Homo sapiens: one gene and its partners. The protein of the gene in region 3 purifies or fractionates together with the protein of the main gene of each other region. This does not show direct contact. Each region holds a gene or a part of one and is shown on either strand. Other genes may lie near its edges.

Evidence for each region.
Region 1: the proteins of XPO6 (region 3) and ENAH purify together in Homo sapiens (affinity purification with mass spectrometry, with the first as the bait; one study listed by BioGRID). This does not show direct contact.
Region 2: the proteins of XPO6 (region 3) and DIAPH1 purify together in Homo sapiens (affinity purification with mass spectrometry, with the first as the bait; one study listed by BioGRID). This does not show direct contact.
Region 4: the proteins of XPO6 (region 3) and SLC27A2 purify together in Homo sapiens (affinity purification with mass spectrometry; one large-scale study listed by BioGRID and IntAct). This does not show direct contact.

The regions. Positions count from the first base shown.
Region 1 is NC_000001.11:225,486,329-225,489,123, forward strand, and holds the end of ENAH (protein enabled homolog), read right to left. Parts: 3' UTR 501-2,795; downstream 1-500. UniProt on the Homo sapiens protein: Ena/VASP proteins are actin-associated proteins involved in a range of processes dependent on cytoskeleton remodeling and cell polarity such as axon guidance and lamellipodial and filopodial dynamics in migrating cells.
Region 2 is NC_000005.10:141,528,501-141,532,000, reverse strand, and holds part of DIAPH1 (protein diaphanous homolog 1), read left to right. Parts: intron 1-2,303; coding exon 2,304-2,398; intron 2,399-2,727; coding exon 2,728-2,829; intron 2,830-3,059; coding exon 3,060-3,299; intron 3,300-3,418; coding exon 3,419-3,500. UniProt on the Homo sapiens protein: Actin nucleation and elongation factor required for the assembly of F-actin structures, such as actin cables and stress fibers. Binds to the barbed end of the actin filament and slows down actin polymerization and depolymerization.
Region 3 is NC_000016.10:28,110,966-28,114,465, forward strand, and holds part of XPO6 (exportin-6), read right to left. Parts: intron 2,086-3,500; coding exon 1,939-2,085; intron 1,042-1,938; coding exon 852-1,041; intron 1-851. UniProt on the Homo sapiens protein: Mediates the nuclear export of actin and profilin-actin complexes in somatic cells.
Region 4 is NC_000015.10:50,199,196-50,202,695, reverse strand, and holds part of SLC27A2 (long-chain fatty acid transport protein 2), read right to left. Parts: intron 210-3,500; coding exon 51-209; intron 1-50. UniProt on the Homo sapiens protein: Mediates the import of long-chain fatty acids (LCFA) into the cell by facilitating their transport across cell membranes, playing an important role in hepatic fatty acid uptake.

The DNA.
Region 1 (2,795 bases), on a different chromosome or scaffold from region 3:
AAAATGCTGGGATTACAGACATGAGCCACCATGCCCGGCCTGAGAACACTAAGTCTTATGTCTGTCTTCAGCTCTTCAAAGCCCCAAAGCACTTGCACCATTGTGTAGTTTTGCAGTGGTCCCAGTACTGGTTCCTGCAGTAAGTACGCTTAATACTAAAATGCACAGGGCATTTGGTCCTGGAGGAAAATAGCACGTACATGCAGCTCGTTCATTTACCAACAGGCTGTTCACTGGCTTTGGACGCCTCCAATGAAGAGGTCACCAAGCTTTCCGTCATAGAGGAGCAGCAGCATTCAGGGAAAGGATGGCGGATCGCAAAACACTCCCCTTGGTGACAGGCTGAAATGCAGAAGGACCAGTATAGAACGCTCCTCAAGCTTTTAGAACTGAGCGTATTTTAAGGTCAGAATCACAACCAAGACAAAAGAATGCAACTCTTTTCATGTCGTATACCTTTGGTAAATTAAGAGCAACTGGTAAAATAAATACAAATCTCATTTGAATTAAGTATTTCATGTTTTTATTTCAAAAGAAAAAAGGATACCAAGAAGCAGAAGAATGAAGCAGTTAAAACCAGCAAAGCTGCAAAGTAGGAAAGAAAGCTGAGGGAGAGATTGATCCGATTTCAACGATGTGGCCACTTAATGCAAACACAGGGGTCTGATGCTGCAAACCTAAGTCACATGAGTCCAGTGACTTCAGCAGGTCCACTGATCCACCACAGTGACAGGGCCAGGCCCCTTCCTGCTGAATCCTAACTTTACACATTCTAGACACATGTCATGCACATACAGGTTACACTTTATGGTTACATGAAATTGCATGCAATTCACACAGAGAATCATTTTGAAGGCACTGTATTTTGCAGCAGGAGCTGCTACTTTCTGGCAAGTCCTTCCTAGGTTGGCTCACAAGTGGTCCTCCTTTTTATTTATTCCTATATGAAACTTTGGTCCAAAAATCAGGTGCAGTCTGATCCTACCCTCCCAGCTGTTTTAGTTTCATGTCTCACCTTCTCTTCCACGTTCCCTTCTTAAACGTAGATGTCAAGCTTAGAAGATGTTTCCTGACAATGAGATCCTGTTTAATTCAGATTTTCAAACAACTTGAGTCAAGCAAGCAGGAGCTTATAGTATGTTGATTTAAAACAAGTTGTTACCAGTTTCCCTTACCCTTGAATTCGGCAAGGCCCATTAATTCACAAATTCCATGATAAGATACATGAGGTTCTGTATGCATAGTAAATGATTTCTAGTTACAATTAAAATACAGCCTTGTATATGTTTAAGTCAACCTTAACTTTTAAAACATGACTTCAGTATACGCAACCTTAGGCTCACTTCCAGATTATAAAGTCCCATTCATGGGGTGCAAATGTTTACATTGTTAGCAAAGAAAATAGCTCTGCATAATCTTTTGACATACATGCACACTTCTAGTTCTAAAATTCAGAGCAAAGCAAGATGACAAGAGATTCCAATTCCAGCATATATTATGAAAGGTTATGGACTGTGACTATCCATCCTTTTGGACCATAAGAAATTCACTTTTAAATTTTTTCTACTGTGCTGTTCTACTATATACTTTTGGTCTATCAACTTGGTAGGCCTGAAAAAAAAAAGTATTTAACCTTCTAAATCTCATAATAGAAATTATGTACGTTGTTCTTTAACCAGAAAGGTTCACTGCTGACTCCCCCACCTCTCAAAAAACAAACAAACAAACAAACACCACCAAAGCTTTCCGCCATTCATGCACATGCTTATTCTGACCCCAACCCCATCCCTACAAAGGGGCAGCAGACAGCACAATAGTCAAGGACAAGGTTTTTATTTATTTATTTATTTATTATTTATTTATTTATTTTTTAAGGAGACAGGCCTCGCTATGTTGCCCAGGCTGGCCTCCAACTTTGGGCTCAAGTGATCCTTCTGCCTCAGCCCCCCGAGTCGCTGTGCCTAGGAGCACGCACCACCACACCTGGCTTAAGTAGAAGGTTCTGAAATCTGCCAGAGGCTGAGCAACAGAAAGCTTCCAATGAGAACTCAGAAGGCATTCACTCTGCCTGAAGTTGTGCTCTGCTCACAGCACGAGTGTGGCTGTCCCTCTCTCGCTCCCACCAGCTACATAATAGGGACTTTCAGGATGCTCCTATAAATACAGACTCCAGAGAGGTTTCCTCAAAAATTAAAAAAAAAATTCTATGCAAATATGTAAGTACTGTCATTGAGGATTACAGAAATACTTTGCATCAACTACAGATGTCTCAAAATAGAATTCTTTCTAGCTCATTCAGTTTTGTTAGAAACACTTCATGTTCTCCAAAAAAGAAAAGCACCTAACGAAAAGCATGTCCTATTCATGCTAGCAAGAAATGAATCCCAAAGGACACGCACCAAGAACCAAAGTAAAAGAATGTCAGCAAAACAGGACCCATCTTTTATCATCCCAAACTGCTATTTCCATCTCTGACTTTCTGCCAAATTATCTTTATCTTCCTAAGACGAAGCAAAGACTCAGAGCCCTCAAATGGCACGGAAGCGGCACCTGGTCTGCCAAGACATTGCTGTTAAACAGAGTCTTTTGGATTAAAACCAGGGAACTCGGAAGGAATGACTACATGGATATAGATGGATAAGATGGAAGATATAAAATAAGAAGGGCAGGAGGGTAAGATTATTCCTTTTTTCCTTTCAAGGCTGACAGTGATAGAATAAACAGCAGCACAGCAGGTTCAGATGATATGAAAACCACTGAATTCTGCCCAGGAATTGAAAGAAGGGCTTCTTCAC
Region 2 (3,500 bases), on a different chromosome or scaffold from region 3:
GGCAGTGATTTTGAGGCTGGATTGCTTTTTATCCTGTGTAATTTTTAGGAAGGCTGCTTTGGCAGTGATTTTGAGGCTGGATTGCTAAGGTAAGGGGAGACTATAGGCAGAGATGAGTTATGTCATTGTTTTAAACTAGGTGAGATGTGATCAGGGCCTGAAACTAAGGTGATGAGAATAAGAGAGGGAGAGGATATTAAGATGGTAGAATTAGGCTAGGTGCAGTGGCTCATGGCTGTAATCCCAGCACTTTGGGAGGCTGAGGCAGGTGGATCACTGGAGGTCAGGAGTTCGAGACGAGCCTGGTCAACATGGCAAAATGCTGTCTCTACTAAAAATAGAAAAATTAGCTGGGCATGGTGGAGCACGCCTATAATCCCAGCTACTCATGGGGCTGAGGCAGGAGAATCGCTTGAACCCGGGAAGCGGAGGTTGCAGTGAGCCAACACCATGCCGTTGCACACCAGCCTGGGTGACAGAGTGAGACTCATCTCAAGCAATAAATAAATTAAAATAAAAAACTAGCCAGATGTGGTGCCGCATGCCTATAGTCCCAGCCACTTGGGAGACTGAGGTGGGTGGAGGATTGCTTGAGGCTGGGAGGTCCAGGCTGCCATGAGCTATGACTGCACTGCTGCACTCTAGCTTGGGCAACAGAGTGAGATGCTGTCTCAAAAAAAAAAAAGAGAGAGAGAGAGAGAAGGTAAAATTAATGGAATTTAGTGATTGACTTGGGATAAAGGAGAAGGTGCTTTGAGGTTTAGGTCACTCTGCGGAAAGTGGTACCATTTACTGAAATAGGAAAATTCAGCAGGAACAGATTGTCTTTTCGGGGAGGTGGATGTGAGAGGTAGCAGGTTGGTGTCTTACTTAAAGTATATTCTCTAAGTGGCTGCCATCTTTTCATTGGCTTTGTGGTTATGGAATAAATCAGAGTCGTGGAAGTGAGAGAGAATAGGCTAGTTTAGATTGCTATAAAGTGAAAGAAAGAGAAACTGGTAATTTAGAGAGGAACATTGAGTAAGATTTAAAAAACTTGATTATGTATATATGATGAAGGGAAAGGTCTGTGGGGCTGCCTCTTCTGTTGACACATGAGGAAAGGATGAGTACATGGGAGTATATATACTTAGACGTAAATATATGAACACATGCCTCCTATAAGCTTACGAAAATGTTGGTATAGTTTTCTTCTAGGCGATTCCAAAAGGCTTATCTGAGTCTTTTCTAGTCTGGCTCTAACCAAGAGCCCTAGTGCTTTATTTTTAAGTAGGATAAGAGAAAGCTGAGCAAGTAATTTGACCAGTGGCTTTGATTTTTCTCAGTGAAGAGGAGCAGGGTCTTCCTGGAACAAATGGGGAAGTGGTGGGGCAGTGGGGAAAGTGGGAATATGTTGGAGGACCTGCCAAGAAGGGTGGGAGAAAGTGGAATTGGGACACACAAAGAGAATTGCTAACAGCGCGGAGGCCCCAGTTATCATTGGTGCTACTGCAAATTCATAGACTCCAGTCCGCATCAGCCTAGGTGTCAGAGTAGAGAAATGAAATGGCTAGACTGACCAGGGACCCAGAAGGAGAAGGAAGCAAAAGAAAGGTAATAGTAGGAGTAATAATACTAATGGGAGTCATAGTAGAGAGCAAATGAACTGATGGTTTAGAGGCTCCTAATGAAATAGGAAAGGCAGAGTGGAACTGATATATCAGTGAAAACAGAATGGTCAGGAGACTGGAAAGAGAGGTCCTGATAAGGCTGAAGAGTCAAGTGAGAGATTAGAAAGGGAGAGTTGAAAAAACAGGATGTATTTGTTAGGGAATAGGATATGGTGGTTTAAGGTCAAGGCAGCTTTGAGGATCACGTCCTGAGAGTGGGGAACTAAAGTAGAGTGGGGTGAAAGTCTTTGACGTATATATACTTTTTTGAGACGGGTCTCGCTCTGTTGCTCAGGCTGGAGTGCAGTGGTGCGGTCACAGCTCACTGCAACCTTGACCTCCTGGGCTCAGGTGATCCTCCCACCTCAGCCTGCCGAGCAGCTGGGACTACAGGTGCACACCACCACGCCTGGCTAGTTTTTGTATTTTTTGTGGAGATGAGGTTTCCCCATGTTGCCTAGGCTGGTCTCAAACTCTGGGGCTCAAGCGATCCGCCCACCTTGGCCTCCCGAAGTGCTGGGATTACAGGCATGAGCCACTGTGCCTGGCCTAAAAGAGCCCTGTTAGGAAGATTATCCAGCATAGGTTTGCAGGATGGGTTGGAAGCGGGAACAGACCGAGAAGAACATGTCTTAATATCTCATTTTCTGGCAGCAATCTTTTTGGGTTCCTTCCGCATGCCCTATCAAGAGATTAAGAATGTCATCCTGGAGGTGAATGAGGCTGTTCTGACTGAGTCTATGATCCAGGTAAGGAGTAAGGTGGTTCTGCTGGAGCAGGCTCTTCTGTGTCGCTGGGCACTGGCCTCATCTCTGTGTAGATGAAGAGGATCCTCCTCCAGCATTGCTGACTTATGAATGCTGGCTTTGAGAAACTGCCTTTTCTCTGGTGGTCAGATTACTTCTGGTATATTTTGCAAAAGTACCCCCATCTCAGTAGCTGCCTCTCTTCTCCCACCATATGTTTCTTTCTGTATGGTCCTTGAGCAGAGTGTGGGACTGACAACAGAGTAAAAGTTGTTTAGGCTTGAGTTGTTAGCGAATTCCCCTCCAGCTGAGATGTCTCTTCTGTCTTTCAGAACCTCATTAAGCAAATGCCAGAGCCAGAGCAGTTAAAAATGCTTTCTGAACTGAAGGATGAATATGATGACCTGGCTGAGTCAGAGCAGTTTGGCGTGGTGGTGAGTGAGGCCTGTGGCAGTAAGCGGTTTTCCACCTCCTGTATTCCCCTCCCCTCTAGAGAGCAGCCTGGGCATATGCTCCTTGCCGCTTGTCTGTTTTTGAACCTGTCTTAATCTCTCTCTTCTCCCTGCTCTGGAGCTGTGATCCTCCCATAGGAGGCTCAAGCGTGTATCTTTTTCTGACTTCCCCCTCTTTTGACTGTAATGGAACTGCTTGTGTTCTTTACTAGATGGGCACTGTGCCCCGACTGCGGCCTCGCCTCAATGCCATTCTCTTCAAGCTACAATTCAGCGAGCAAGTGGAGAATATCAAGCCAGAGATTGTGTCTGTCACTGCTGCATGTGAGGAGTTACGTAAGAGTGAGAGCTTTTCCAATCTCCTAGAGATTACCTTGCTTGTTGGAAATTACATGAATGCTGGCTCCAGAAATGCTGGTGCTTTTGGCTTCAATATCAGCTTCCTCTGTAAGGTGAGCCAAAGAGGTAGGGCAGGACAACACAAGGAAGGCTGTAGCCTCTATGAGTTCAGTGTTGGCAGGAGGCCATCTTGGACATGTCAGGATTTAACAGTTTCTCCTCTTTCTCTAAGCTTCGAGACACCAAGTCCACAGATCAGAAGATGACGTTGTTACACTTCTTGGCTGAGTTGTGTGAGAATGACTATCCCGATG
Region 3 (3,500 bases):
AAGGGAAGGTAAGAAGGAAGCATGGTTAAAATGGTTACTTTCTAAAATATTAAAACTGGTCAGATTTAGGAGTTACTTTTTCCTTCTTTGTATTATTCTATTTTAATGTATTTGTACAATGCACATATGTTAATCTTCCTAGTTATAAAAGTAGTGTTTTTTAAAGAGTATAGTATTTATTACTATTTCTGACATTTCACAAAGCATTTTTGCTGACATTCCATAAATGGCACCATCTAATAATGTTCTATTATTTTCTTTTTGTGAAAGGAGCTCGTATTTTTAAAATATTTCGGTACTATTTGTTATTTCAAAGAGATATTTCCTTATTCATTTTTTTCCCTCTTTCTTTAATATAAACAAGCAAACTTCAAGTGCCATTTTTTAAGAAACTAAGCTCTTTCAAAACCTCTGGAAGATCTGTATTTGGAAAAAGGTTGAAACCAATCTGGAAAAATAGTTCTTGAGCGCATTTTCCCAGCGTGTAGAGGTGAACTGCTTTGTTTGCCTACACAAGCATCTGAAATAGATCAATAACCACCTTAAGATGTATTTTATAGACAGAAGGCACCATCACCAGTGTCTTCCATTTTTTCTTAGGGCTCCAGCATTTTTTACATTTTAAATAAGAGAAGGGACAGTTTGATTCTGGAAATAGGTCTGGCTGCTGTCTTAACTGAATTCCAAAGGTAGCAGGATCCCACCCCCAAGTATGACTTCCTGCTCAGCCTCTGTGGGACTATGAACAAAAAAAATTTACCTCAGGAGCCTCCGGGGCAAATCTCATCTGCCACAAAGAACAATGCCTGCCTACCTCCTTCCCCAGCTGTCCTAGCCTAGGGGTCACTTACTGTCATCCAGTGGCATCTTTCTCTGTGGGGCAACAGCACTGGGCTTCAGGTTGCGATAGTCCCGGGAGAGTGCAGAGATGAGGCTGGCGTGGTTGATGGAGCGCACGGGCCACTGCTGCTCATTCTCTGGAAGGTTTGGCCACGGAAGCAGCAAGATGTTAGAGAGGGCTCGGCACACCAACACCTGGGCCTACAAGAGACCCCAAAGGCATCCATCAGAGGTCAGAGCCAAAGACCGTGGTGCGGCATGCCCAACACAGCCTTCAGCACCCGCTGGCTGCACACCTGGAACCCTAGCCCCCAGGCTCGTTTCTTGCAACCTGGGCAAGGCCTTTGGTCCAACTGGAAGGCAACTTAGGGAGGAAGATGAAATGAAGTAATAGCACCATGTCTAGGTCTAGCATAACCCAGAGCTAACCTCTCGTTTCCTCTCTAATCTGATACTTGAAGTATTAGAGAGGGAAAAATCACACTGCAGACACTGAATCTCAGGCATTGTTCAGCTGGTGGCTTCTGAGTCCTCTGAGAAGCTACTTAGAGCAGGACTTGCAGGAGAATCCGTGACAATCCATGCCCCTAGCACCAGGTCACATCCTGCAATCACATCCTGGTGCCCTCTGGTACCCTCTTCAAACCTTCCTGCCCTCCCTCCTGTTAGGTGGTTTTTAAACTTCTAGCTTGAGCCTCCTTTGAGGATTCTAAGAAAATGCACTTGCCTGGCACTTCTCAACCCCAAAGAACACACACAGAACAGTGACAACAAAAACCAGACTGCTTTGAATCAGAAAGAATGCAAAGAGAATTCTCACAACACTGGCCGAAATTACCAGGCTGCAAAGCAGCAAAACCTTTCTGCACACTGGGAGGTGCTTTTCCACGCCTCAATCAGCACACTGACTGCCTGCCTTAGAATGGGCACGATGAGAATCACTGAGTCTGTGTCAGTGCCACACAATAAGAAATCTGTCTATGCTGGTACAGCCTGTAAGCTCTGAGTACAAAATCAAAGGCCAGACTCTTCTTCCTCAGCTTCCTTGGGTCTCAGTCACACAGCCCTGGGGACCCCGGGGGAGCTCTGGGGCCTCACCTTATCGACAAGTCGCAGGGCAGAGGCATCAGTGATTCTGTTGAATACTTTCTGCACTGCAGGGATGCTGATCAGAAAGACGGGCCGCACGGTGGTGGCCAGTGAGACCAGTAAGTGGCACGCAGATAGCAGCAGCTTGTCTTGGACCTGCAGAGGGAAGAGGGCACGTCAGCTCACCACATCCCTGTAAGACTGGGATTCGAACTTTGCTGAGGCAGCCACAAGCTATGTGTCATTCTTGGTTTCCAAATTACACCACCTAGGCCCTATCTAGCTCAAGAATTTTTCCTATGATGACTACAAGAGAAGCCCATCTTCTCTGTCATGTCCACAGCTCCTGCCGCAGCCATTATCACCTCCTCCCGTTCCTCCTTCACAGTCACCAGCAGCCTTGAACTCAGGCACTTCTCAGCTTAGAGTCTGCAGTGGCTCCCTATCAGCTATTAAATCACACTCCCTGGCATGTCATCCAGGTCCTAGAATTCTTCACCTCACTAATTGTTCCAGCAGAGCCAAGATCTCCCCGAGCCCCCGACTCTTCTGTGCCTTAACACTCAGGCCAGTCTCTCCTACTGCTTTCCCTTCAGCATGCCTATCAAATACTTGGTTCAATTACCACTGTTGCTTTCAAATTAGCAAAGGAGAAAAACGTGTTACAGATGGGACCTAATGCTGGTAAGACTAAGATAAAAACAGCACACCAAAAAGTCAAGGCAGGCAGAATTACTTCGGGAAAAAAATTACTATGATTTCCCAAAGTCACAAAATATTCCTAACCTTTAACCCTTACTCTAAGATTACCTATAACCTATAATACTTACTCTAAGAAGATTACCTAAAAGGGTAAAGCTACATTCATGAATGTGTGCATTTCAGAATTCTTTATAATTTTTTATTTTTTAAGGGAGGCAGCCTAGAAGTCCAGCAATGGCTAGGAAAATAATGAAACATATTCCTGATGGGATAGGACTATTTTCAAAGTTATAATTATAAATACAACATAAATTTATGGAAAGCAACACATTGTTATTAAAACAATACACTGTTTAAAAATGTATAAAATGTTATGTATGACTAAAACTACAAAAAAATTCAAAGAATAAACACATATATGCTCTAGTAATATAGCAGACTTGGAGGATAACATAATAGAATCTGTCCAGTTTTAACATGGATATAACCTTTGACTCAGTAATTCCACTTCCAGGAATCTATCCTTCAGGCCCACTAGCATATGTAAGATGGACATAAAAGGAACTCATTTCTAGCAATAGGAAAATTATTATACATCCTCACAAAAAAAAAAAAAAAAAACCACTGGACATTTTGACAATCTGAAGTTGCTGTACATATGTAAAGGAAAATGAAGGCATACTGTTAGGCAAAAGCAGCTATATCTCCAGCTATCTACAAACTTAGTTATTACTTATTACATAAAAAGAGAAAAAAGTCTGGAAGGATATACAGGCATACCTCAGAGATACTGCAGGTTCAGCTCCAGACCACCACAATAAAGCAAATTATGCAATAACGCAAGGCACACTAATTTTTTTGTTTCCCAA
Region 4 (3,500 bases), on a different chromosome or scaffold from region 3:
GGAAAATGTAAATGTGCACTCGCCTCCAACATTTTGTAGAAAAAGCTTACCAGCCACAATACATCCGTGAATGCCAATCAGTAGTGCAGCACTGTGGTAAAAGGGCAGAGTGATATAGATGACATCATCTGCCTTCAATCCGCTTACAAAAGTGAGGCCAGTTCCATACCATATGCGCTGATGAGTGATCATGGCTGCTTTTGGAAGACCTTTGTAAATATACAAGAGAAGGCATGAGTTAACCAAGATTGGGCATTTACAGTGTAGGAGAGAGATCTGGCTTAGGAAGATTCATCACCCTGTATTTTGAGAATTGCACTGGGAAGGGCCATGACCAGTTAGTCCAGGAGTTGACAAATGTTTTCTATAAAGGACCAGGGAGTAAATGTTTTGGGATTGTGGGTCATACAATCTCTGTTGCAACAACTGAACTCTGCTATTGTAGTCAAAAGCAGCCATACACATACATAAATGGAGTGTGGCTGTGTTCCAATAAAACTTTATTTACAAAAACAGGTGGGAGGCTGTATTTGGCCCACAAGCCATAGATTGCTAACTCCTGAGTTAGATGGTTATGACAGTAGTAATCTGAAGAGAAACAGAAACAGAGGAATGACTGTCCATTGAATTTCTGCCCTGTGGCTACCACTTTGCAAGACATTTTAAAAATCCATAACAAGTTTATATATGACATAAACAGAATTATATTCTCCAATCCACAGATGTGAAGGCTGAGAGTCAGAGAGATTTCTTACGTACTAGAGTTATTTTATACAAACAAAGCAAATATGAACATTTGCTTATATGTTCTTGCCTTTTCCATTAAAAAATATGCACACTTGGCCAGGCGCGGTGGCTCACGCCTGTAATCCTAACACTTTGGGAGGCTGAGGCGGGCGGATCACAAGGTCAGGAGATCAAGACCATCCTGGCTAACATGGTGAAACCCCGTCTCTACTAAAAATACAAAAAATTAGCCGGGCGTGGTGGTGGGTGCCTATAGTCCTAGCTACTCAGGAGGCTGAGGTAGGAGAATGGCATGAACCTGGGAGGCAAAGGTTGCAGTGAGCCGAGATAGCGCCACTGCACTCCAGCCTGGGTGACAGAGCAAGACTCCATCTCAAAAAAAAAAAAGAAATATGCACACTCTTTTGCATGTTTTTTGTCTCTGCTGCTTAACAATGTTTACTGGAGATTTGTTCATGTTTGTACATAAAGATTTCCCTTATTTATTCATTTATTTATTCTCTTTCTCAGCTCCTTCAAGTCCTTTTATAAGTGTATTATAATTTATTTATACTATTTGCTGTTATAAATGATGCTGCAGTGAAGAAGCTCGTCCACGTGGCAATTCACACTATGAATGACACCATATCTTTTGGATAAATTCACTGAAGTGAGATTGTTGTGTCAAAAGATAAAAGTTGGCCAGTCCTGTAATCCCAGCAATTTGGGAGGCTGAGGCAGGAGGATCGCTTGAGCCCAGGAGTTCAGCACCAGTCTGGGCAACATAGTGAGACCCCTCCTCTACAAAAAGTAAAACAAATTAGCTGGGTGTGGCGGTATGCACCTGTAGTCCTAGCTACTTGGGTGGGATGATCGCCTGAGCCCAGGAGGTTGAGGCTACAGTGAGCCCTGATCCTGCCACTGTACTCCAGCCTGGGCAACAGAATGAGTTTCTGTCTCAAAAAAAGAGTAAGAGTCTTTGTAATTTTGATAGATAACTTCCACATTGCCAGTTATAAGGGCTGTCCCCATTCATTCTCCTATCAGCAATACATGAGTGTGCCTGTTTCCTCCTAGCCTTGTCAATGTGTGCTCTTAAATGTTGGGGCCTTTGCCAGTCTGAAAGGTGAAAAACCGTATCTCAGTGTAGTTTTAGTACATTAGACTAAATGCGCTTGCACTTTCTTAACCATAATTTATATACGTTTTTTGTAAGATTTTCTTCTGTAAGTGTATGCTTATGTTGTTTCCCATGGAAGAACAGTTCAATTGGGGAGGGCATGAAGTCACTGGGAAGGGGACTAAGAGTTTAAGATCTGAGTGGGTAAACAGACTTCGTGAAGAGGAAGACAGATCTCTGTTGACTCAGATTCTTCAATACTTGGTGGTACCTTCACCAGATAGTGCCCAAATAGCAGCAACTTGTTACAAGGCAGACAAATATGGCTAGCAACCTACCATTATTGTAAACACAATTCAAAATTCATTTTCTTTGACAATGGCCCAGTTTTTTGTTTTGTTTTATGTATTATTATTATTATTATTATTATTTTTGAGATAGGCTTTCACTCTGTTGCCAGGCTGGAGTGTAGTGGTGTTCAAGGCTCACCACAGCCTCAGGTCAAGTGATCCTCCTGTCTCAGCCCCCCAGGTATCTGGGACCACAGGTGTGCACCACCATGCCTGGCTGTTTATTTATATTTTTTGTAGAGACAAGGTCTTGCTTTATTGCCCAGACTGATGTTGAACTCTTGGCTTCAAGTGAGCCTCCCATCTTGGCCCCAAAGTGTTGAGATTATAGATATGAGCCATCATGCCTGGCCTCTGAAATTTTTAAAAAGAAATGCTCATCTTTGTTGCCTTGAAGTACTTTCAGAACTTTCCTAAATTAAGATTTTGTATTAATGAATAAATGAGAATATCTGGTAACTATTATATAATTTTGTGCTAATGACTTCCTTTGAGGAGCAGGAACATTTATTCTCCAACTGTTTAAACAAATTCTTTTAATTAATGTTTACAAGAGTAACTTAGCACTATTTTTTTTCTACAGACAGTGCCTTGCTCTGTCACCCAGCATGGGGTGTAGTGGCACGTCACTGTAGCCTCAGACTCCTGGGCTCAAGTGATCCTCCCACCTCAGTCTCCCAAGTAGCTAGGACTACAAGGTGTACCACTATGCCAGCTAATTTTTTAATGTTTTTGTAAAGATGTGGTCTCGCTATGTTGCCCAGCCTGGTCTCAAACTCCTGGGCTCAAGTAATCCTCCTGCCTTGGCCTCCCAAAGTTCTGAGATTGTAGATGTGAGCCACTGTGCTTGGCCTAGCAAATATTTGATTCAGAGAAAATGAAAAAAGTAAAATAAACACCCTTCTAATTGTCTTCCAATTAAATATAAATTCTGACTTACGAGATTAAATCAGAGGATGCTCATTCTCTTTTTTCTCCCTAAAAGGGGTTTTCTTTTTTTTTCTTTCTTTTTTTTTTTTTTTAAGACAGAGTCTCGCTCTGTCGCCCAGGCTGGAGTGCAGTGGCGCAATCTCGGCTCACTGCAAGCTCCGCCTCCCTGGTTCATGCATGCCATTCTCCTGCTTCAGCCTCCTGAGTAGCTGGGACTACAGGTGCCCGCTACCACACCTGGCTAATTTTTTGTACTTTTAGTAGAGATGGGGTTTCACCATGTTAGCCAGCATGGTCTTGATCTCCTGACCTCGTGATCTGCCTGCCTCGGCCTCCCAATAAAAGGGGTTTTCTATTTGACTGTGAAAACATGC